Homo sapiens: one gene and its partner. The protein of the gene in region 2 interacts with the protein of the main gene of each other region in a pairwise test. Each region holds a gene or a part of one and is shown on either strand. Other genes may lie near its edges.

Evidence for each region.
Region 1: the proteins of PUM1 (region 2) and PRR12 interact in a two-hybrid assay, tested with the Homo sapiens proteins (one large-scale study listed by BioGRID and IntAct).

Annotation. Positions count from the first base shown.
Region 1 is NC_000019.10:49,618,636-49,622,448, reverse strand, and holds part of PRR12 (proline-rich protein 12), read right to left. Parts: intron 2,098-3,813; coding exon 1,972-2,097; intron 925-1,971; coding exon 827-924; intron 1-826.
Region 2 is NC_000001.11:30,964,550-30,968,362, forward strand, and holds part of PUM1 (pumilio homolog 1), read right to left. Parts: coding exon 3,805-3,813; intron 3,689-3,804; exon of another isoform or gene 3,614-3,688; intron 2,762-3,613; coding exon 2,618-2,761; intron 1,730-2,617; coding exon 1,433-1,729; intron 362-1,432; coding exon 125-361; intron 1-124. UniProt on the Homo sapiens protein: Sequence-specific RNA-binding protein that acts as a post-transcriptional repressor by binding the 3'-UTR of mRNA targets.

The DNA of each region.
Region 1 (3,813 bases), on a different chromosome or scaffold from region 2:
AGCTAATTTTTTATTTTGAGTAGAGACGGGGTTTCACTTTTTTTTATTTTGAGAGAGCCAGGGTGGTCTCGAACTCTTGACCTCAGGCCATCTACCGGCCTTGGCTTCCCAAAGTGCTAGGATCACAGGCGTGAGCCACTGTGCCCGGCCTTCCTGCGTATTTTCTAAGACTAACTTCCCACCAGCCATCTCAGCACCAGCCTAATAGCCTATCCCAGAATTCTTAGTACCAGCCTAGAATCCATCCCAGAATTCTCAGAATCACTGCAAGTCTTCCAGAATTCTCAAAGCCAGAATAACATTCGATTCCAGAAGTCTCAGTTACCCTAACATTCTATCCCGGAATTCTCAGTGCCACACTAACATCCCAACCAGAATCCTCAGAGCCAGTTTAACACTGGATTTCAGAGCCCTGATATTCCATCCCAGAATATCCCAGAAGGGAAATCATACAGATGACTTAACACTGAAGCCTGGGATCCTAATAGCCTGCATTGGACTCACAAAGAAGCCATCGGTCCAGTGCCCGCTTTGGGTGCAGGCCTAGTCTATGTTTGGCTGCACACTTGTTCTCCGAAACAACAGCCCAGCCTTTCACAACCACCCCTCTGCTGCCCCAAGGCCCACAGCTCCTCCCCACATGGGCTTCATGGCTGTTGAGAACCCAGAGATCTCCTGACAGTCCTGCCCTCAACTTTTCTCCCATCTGAGCCCAGAAGGACGATCTCCTTCCAAGGATCACCCCCGCCAACAGCGGCCGACACGTACATGTCTTCTCCATGTGGACCCTGGGCCCCAGACACCCCCTGCCCAGACCCCCAGGCACCTGCAGGGCTGGGCTTAGCGACAGCCGCTTCAGGACTTTCTTCTTGTGCTCATTCAGCAGGCCGTCTATCTTCCGCATGGGGGGCAGGTACAGCTCGTCTGATGGACGAGGACATGGTATCAGGAAGGCCACAGCCTCACAAAGCACTGGGGCCAAGGTGGGGTCATGGAGTCTGGGTCCCCAAATCCCCTTCCCACTCAGAGACAAAAGTACAGGCCCCAGCCCCCTCCTCCTTCGGACCCAGGAGTCCAGGCCCCAGCTCCCTCCTCCCTCAGACCCAGGAGTCCAGACCCCCAGCCGCTCCTCCCTCAGACCCAGGAGTCCAGACCCCCAGCCGCTCCTCCCTCAGACCCAGGAGTCCAGACCCCCAGCCCCTCCTCTCTCTGACCCAAGAGTCCAGACCCCCAGCCCCTCCTCCCTCAGACCCAGGAGTCCAGGCCCCAGCCCCTCCTCCCTCAGACCCAGGAGTCCAGACCCCCAGGCCCTCGACCCCCAGCCCCTCCTCCCTCAGACCCAGGAGTCCAGGCCCCAGTCCCTCCTCCCTCAGACCCAGGAGTCCAGGCCCCAGCCCCTCCTCCCTCAGACCCAGGAGTCCAGACCCCAGCCCCTCCTCCCTCAGACCCAGGAGTCCAGGCCCCAGTCCCTCCTCCCTCAGACCCAGGAGTCCAGGCCCCAGTCCCTCCTTCCTCAGACCCGGGAGTCCAGTCCCTCCTTCCTCAGACCTGGGAGTCCAGGTCCAGCCTCTCCTCCCTCAGAACCAGGAGTCTAGGCCCCCAGCGCCTCCTCCCTCAAACCCAGGAGTCCAGGCCCCCAGCCCCTCCTCCCTCAGACCCAGGAGTCCAGGCCCCCAGCCCTTCCTCCCTCAGACCCAGGAGTCCAGGCCCCCAGCCTCTTCTCCCTCAGACCCAGGAGTCCAGGCCCCCAGCCTCTTCTCCCTAGGACCCAGGGACCTCCTCCCTCAGACCCAGGACTCCAGGCCCCAGCCCCTCCTCTCTCAGACCCAGGTCCAGGCCTCAGCTCCTCTTCCCTCAGACTCAGGAGTCCCGACCCCAAACCTCTCCTCTCTCACATCACGTCCAAGCCCTCAGCACCTGCTCCCTCAGACCGAGTCAGCCCCCCCCCCTCCTCCCCAGGCCTCAGCTCACCATGCGTGTCCTCCAGGGCCTGGATCATGTCTGGGTCAAGTGCTGTGCTCACCAACATCTCCACGTAGCTCCGGTACATCTCCCGCATCGCCCTGGTTTTGAGCAGACGCCCAGGTACTGCCCGCTCTGCAGAAAAGACAGGACGCAGGCTCGTTATCCCAATTTCCTCTGAGACCACCTGTGTGGCAGACACTGTTCTCAACACTGGGGACCGGAAGAGAAATCCCTGCTTTTGGGAGGTCCAAGTCCGCTAGGGAAGATTGACAGGCAAGCGCCAGTGCCACGTGCTCTTGTGGCAGAATCACAGGGACTGCAAGAAGCTCAGAGAAGGCCAGGCACAGTGGCTCACGCCTGTCATCCCAGCACTTTGGGAGGCCGAGGCAGATCACCTAAGGTCAGGAGTTTGATACCAGCCTGGCCAGCGTGGCAAAACCCTGTCTCTACTAAAAATACAAAAATTATCCAGGCGTGGTGGCACACGCCTGTAATCCCAGCTACTCGGAAGGCTGAGGTAGGACGGCTTGAACCCAGGAGGCGGAGGTTGCAGTGAGCCAAGATTGTGCCATTGCACAGCCTGGGTGACAGAGTGAAACTCGTCTCCAAAAAAAAAAAAAAAAAAAAAAAAAGCCAGGCATTGTAGCCCATAAAGTGCTGTGGCCTGCAATCCCAGCACTTTGGGAGGCCGAGGCAGGCAGATCACCTGAGGTCGGGAATTGGAGACCAGCCTGACCAACATGGAGAAACCCCGTCTCTACTAAGAAATACAAAATTAGCCGGGCATGGTGGTGCATGCCTGTAATCCCAGCCACTCGGGAGGCTGAGGCAGGAGAATCCCTTGAACCTGGGAGGCGGAGGTTGCGGTGAGCCGAGATCGCACAATTGTACCCCAGCCTGGACAACAAGAGCGAAACTCCGTCTCAAAAAAAAAAAAAAAAAAAAAAAGGGCTGGGCATGGTGGCTCACACCTGTAATCCCACCACTTTGGGAGGCCAAGGCAAGTGGATCACCTGAGGTCGGGAGTTCGAGACCAGCCTGACCAACATGGAGAAACCCTGTCTCTACTAAAAATACAAAATTAGCCGGGTGTGGTGGTGCGTGCCTGTAATCACAGCGACTCGGGAGGCTGAGGCAGGAGAATCGCTTGAACCCGGGAGGCAGAGGTTGCGGTGAGCTGAGATCGCACAACTGCACTGGCAATAAGCCTGGGCAACGAGAGCAAGACTGTCTCAAAAAAAAAAAAAAAAAAAAAAAAACTCACAGGAGGCATCAGACTCACCCTTGTTCAAGATCAAACAAAGGCTGAGCCTTGAGTGATAGCTCAGAGCACTTAATTGTGGCTTCACGTAAGTCTAAAGCAGCAGCATTGTTGGTTTCCAAAAGAGGGTATCCAGGGAGGTCAGATCATAAAGGGGCAAGGCTGAGGGACGAGATGGGAGCTGGCATTGCACAGGTCAGTGCAGGCCAGACCACACTGGGCCTCCAACACCAGGCAGAAAGGGCAAGGGCTTTTTCTGGTGGGTACTAGGGAGCCATGAGAGAGCTGAGAGCAGGGAAGGGGTGAGTGTAAGCGTAGAAAGATCCCTCCTAAGCCAAGCAGGGGACAGACTGGAGGAGTGAGGCTGAAGTCCAGGCTGATGGACCAGGTAGGAACGAATGAAGGTGGGGCAGGGCTGGAAGCAGAGGACGAGGCTGAGCTGGGCAGGCCTGGGAAAGGGTGGAGGGGATGGGGGCGGACAGGGCTGGGAGCTGCCCAGCTGTGGGGGCGACAGGTAGAAAAAGAAAAGAGGAAGGCCGGGTGCAGTGGCTCATGCCTGTGATCCCAGCACTTTGTGAGACTGAGGC
Region 2 (3,813 bases):
CACAGAACACCCAGGACACTTCTAGTATAAAGGGACTGTCCTTTGCTTATGCAAAGTTCTTGTAATGTCATCGGTGGCAAGAGAGTTCTAGAGTTCAAGGTGGTGTTAGAGTAATGGTTCTTACCCAGGTTTAAGCTTGAAGAGGATCCATGTGAAGAGAGGGAAGGAGGTGGTGTCTGTGAATGTCCTGGTCCCTGACTAGGGAGAGGCATGCCCACGGGTCCAGGAGAGGAGGAAAAGCTAAGGCCGTTATAAAAACTGTGTCCAATGGGGGTCAAGCTGCTCGATGTCCTCTTATAAAGGTCACTGCTGCCAGTCAGGGAGTCACGGCGGGAGCCACTGCCAGTGTTGGAGTTTGCAACTAAAATGGAATTAAAACAATGCAGATAAGAACAGGCCTGTTCTTCGAAGAACAAGCCCAGTGACCTGTTCCTAACACTTTGATCCAGACTCCTTACCACCGCAAATTTGTCAGCAGAGACAGCCTAACTGTTAATGTAGCAGTACTAGGGGCAGATAAGTAATAAAGAGGACATGGCTCAGGTTAACATGACCATCAAACATATGCCAAATTTACCTTCCTATGGTGTCGTATATTATAGGATAAGGGAGGGTTAAAAAGCTCTGACGGCCACATGAACTATGGAAAAGGTGGAAGAAAATGGACTAGAAGAATGCCTTTCATCAATTGAAAAGGTTCAAGTAGAAAAATGGGATACAGAAAAAAGATTTGTAAATGGGGTACTGCCCCACTACACAAGACTTCTATATGAAAGCCTGTTTTCTCAGTGGGTTCAATCGAGAGTTAATGCTGCCCTCAATTCCAATTAAGATACTTTCTTTCACACATGCCCTTCTATTTAGGGATCACTTTTGTTTGTTTGTTTTTTATAATCTCTGCAATTATCCCATTATTCACCATACTACACTCCTGCTTTTTTCATCAAAACATTAAAAATATCTTGGTCTAATATCCTTCCTCCTAATTTTCCACATGTCTACCTTAAATTCTACTCAAAAGACTGAAGAAAACTTGTAACTCTTTAAGGCCTGCAGGCCAAGAACTCGGCTCAGTCTCAATTGTGGAGTATTTCAGCTCTGCTATCTTTAGTAAGTCCTCCTCCCTCAGTTTTTGATATCAATTTCTACAGTTCCCTCAATATTTTTCCCAAATACAGCAAAAATCTTCCCTAGATTTCAAATCCCTGAAAGAAACTGATTAAGTAAGTAGCCACATGAGCATGGATTGAAATAGGTCCCATCTGTATAACTTGATTTCAATAGTCTATCATCTCACAGATTATGTGGGATGGCTGGATTCCCACAAGGCTTGGTCCAGATCTGCCTGTGGTTCCATGCATTGCCAGTATTCCAGAAGGATTGTAAAAATAATTAAAATTCAGTCTTAAGAGCATATCAGTCTAATTTCTACCTGCTGTTCCAAACCCTCCAAGGGCGGATCCCAGGGTGGCGCCGAGAGAACTGCTACTTCCGAATCCCAAGGATGTGTTGGCAGGCTGGGCAGAGCCCTGGGAGAAGAGGGAGCTGCTCTGTGAATTGCTGTTCAGAGAGTTGTTGCCGTAGAAAGAACTGGATGCCAGGTTGTTATTGGGCTGCTGCTGGGGCTGGGGCTGAGGCTGCTGTGTTCCTAAAGGGCGAAATGGTCCATTTGTTGTTCCAGCAAGACCACCAGCTGCTCCATTTGCTGAAGCTGCGGCTGCTGCAACAGCTATGAAGAAGAAAGCAAACCGTTTGGCTATGAAAGGGACTGGCCACATTTCCAAACTACATTTTTATCTTTTTTCAAAAAATCTTTTAATGCTGCCTATCTTTTCAAAACAGACACAAACCATACAAATCTGTCTTTGATCCCTTCATATGAAGCTTCTATTTTCTGTTTCTACTTTCAATTTGAACTCAAAATACCACTAGAACAAGTTCACTATGCTGGTTGCTTTTAAGAGTATACAGATTAAAAGGGGTATAAACATCAAATGTATCCATTAAATACAACTACTTCCTAAAATCTTAAATTCCATAAATATCTATGTTGAGGGTTTCTTCTAGAACCATGTAATGCACATACACATCCTTCAAATTCCTATTTTAGCACACTGCTGTCTTCTAGATGTTCCTGTTATTGTTCTTAATTAAAAAATAAATAAATATAAACACTTAAAGTAAAAAACTATTACTCCTCCCAACCAAATGTATTATTTTGTCACTTCTCACTACTCTTTCCCACGTCCTCCACTCCTGCCCCTGTGGCAAAAAACAACCCCTCCTCTAAAATTATCTTAAAATAATGACTTGGATTTCTGCCAACAAAGCCATTTTGTGTGAGTAATGCAACTTCTATGTTCTCAGTGGAGCCAGACCTTCAGACCTTGCTTCTAACCAGCTGGCACATGCCACCCCTCCCCCAACCCACCAACCCCCCAACAAAAAGGAGAATCCACTAAGGTCACTTATTGCTTCTGATCTCTTTTTGAAACATTACAGGGTAGAACCGATATACTGAGAATTGCCAAAAGTTTATTTCAACATACTTTAAGAATCTCACTATCAGTCGCCACTTTTAGATCTCTGGCAGGAGTCCACTCAGATGTGCGCTCACCTGCTTGTGCAGCTGAGGAACTAATGATGACTGGGGCAGGAGCTACAAGTCGAACAGGAGCTCCAAGACCATTTCTCGCGCCTGCATTCACTACAAGGGCACCAGTTTGGTCATAGTAAGCAGCAGGAGCCAACACCGGATAACCTAGGAATATCAAGCCAACAAAGAAATGTATATGTTAAACAAACAAGTATCTCCTGGGCACCAACATATTGTCAATAATCACAAACTCAGCTTTGAGGTTGAATTGGCCAGATTTATATACTGGCTCCATCACTTAAATAGTTGAATAAACAGAGGCTACAAATGATTATAAAAATCATAGTACTTTCATACTACATAATAATTTAAGAACAAATATCCTGCAAAATAGCAGGAAAAACCTAGATAGGCTTTAAATAACATGATCTTTCAATATTATGTGAGATAGAATCTCCAAATCCCAGTTTAAGCCATATGAAAAACTGCAGGTGACTTCCTAAGAACACACAAAGGCTCAGTAACTAAAAAACAAATGAAACAGGTTAAAGTTATTTATTGAATTCATAAATGGCTCAGTTAAATTGGCTATGCTCTATGATCAGTAAAGGTCCATAAAAATACGCTGACATCTCTCAAAGACTTGTTTCACATGTAGAACATCAAAGTACATCTAATCCCATGCAAAGCACCAAACCAGCTGACAGTGAACCAAAAACAACATATATTCAAGATGTATCTATATAAACATGTATCTCAGAGGTAGACAGCTAAAAAGGACCCCTACTATTGGTTTAAGAGAAACCTTAAAAACGTAAGGGATGACCCTATCAAGGTATACCAGAAATTTCTCACTAATCATGCTGTTCAAAAACATCAACATAAAGACTAAGCCTTGTAAACTAGCTTGGCCACTCCATCTATCCCTGATTCTGAAACAGAAAACAGATAATCCACCAAGGAAAAACCACATATTCCAAGCTGCATGGACATTTAGATACCTCCAATATGACTTAAGACTGGCTCAGAACAATGCTCTCATCAGTGAACTATAGTCTAAGTGAGGGCAAGTGTGTATCATCCTTGCCAGTCCCCAAATCATGACAAGCCTAAGCAAGGTGAAAGCACTGCTCATTCCCCTCTGTAATCACCTCAAACGTGCAGCCTTTTTCCCTGCCAAAGTATTAGGAATAACAATGCAGCCGCACCTGGCATGC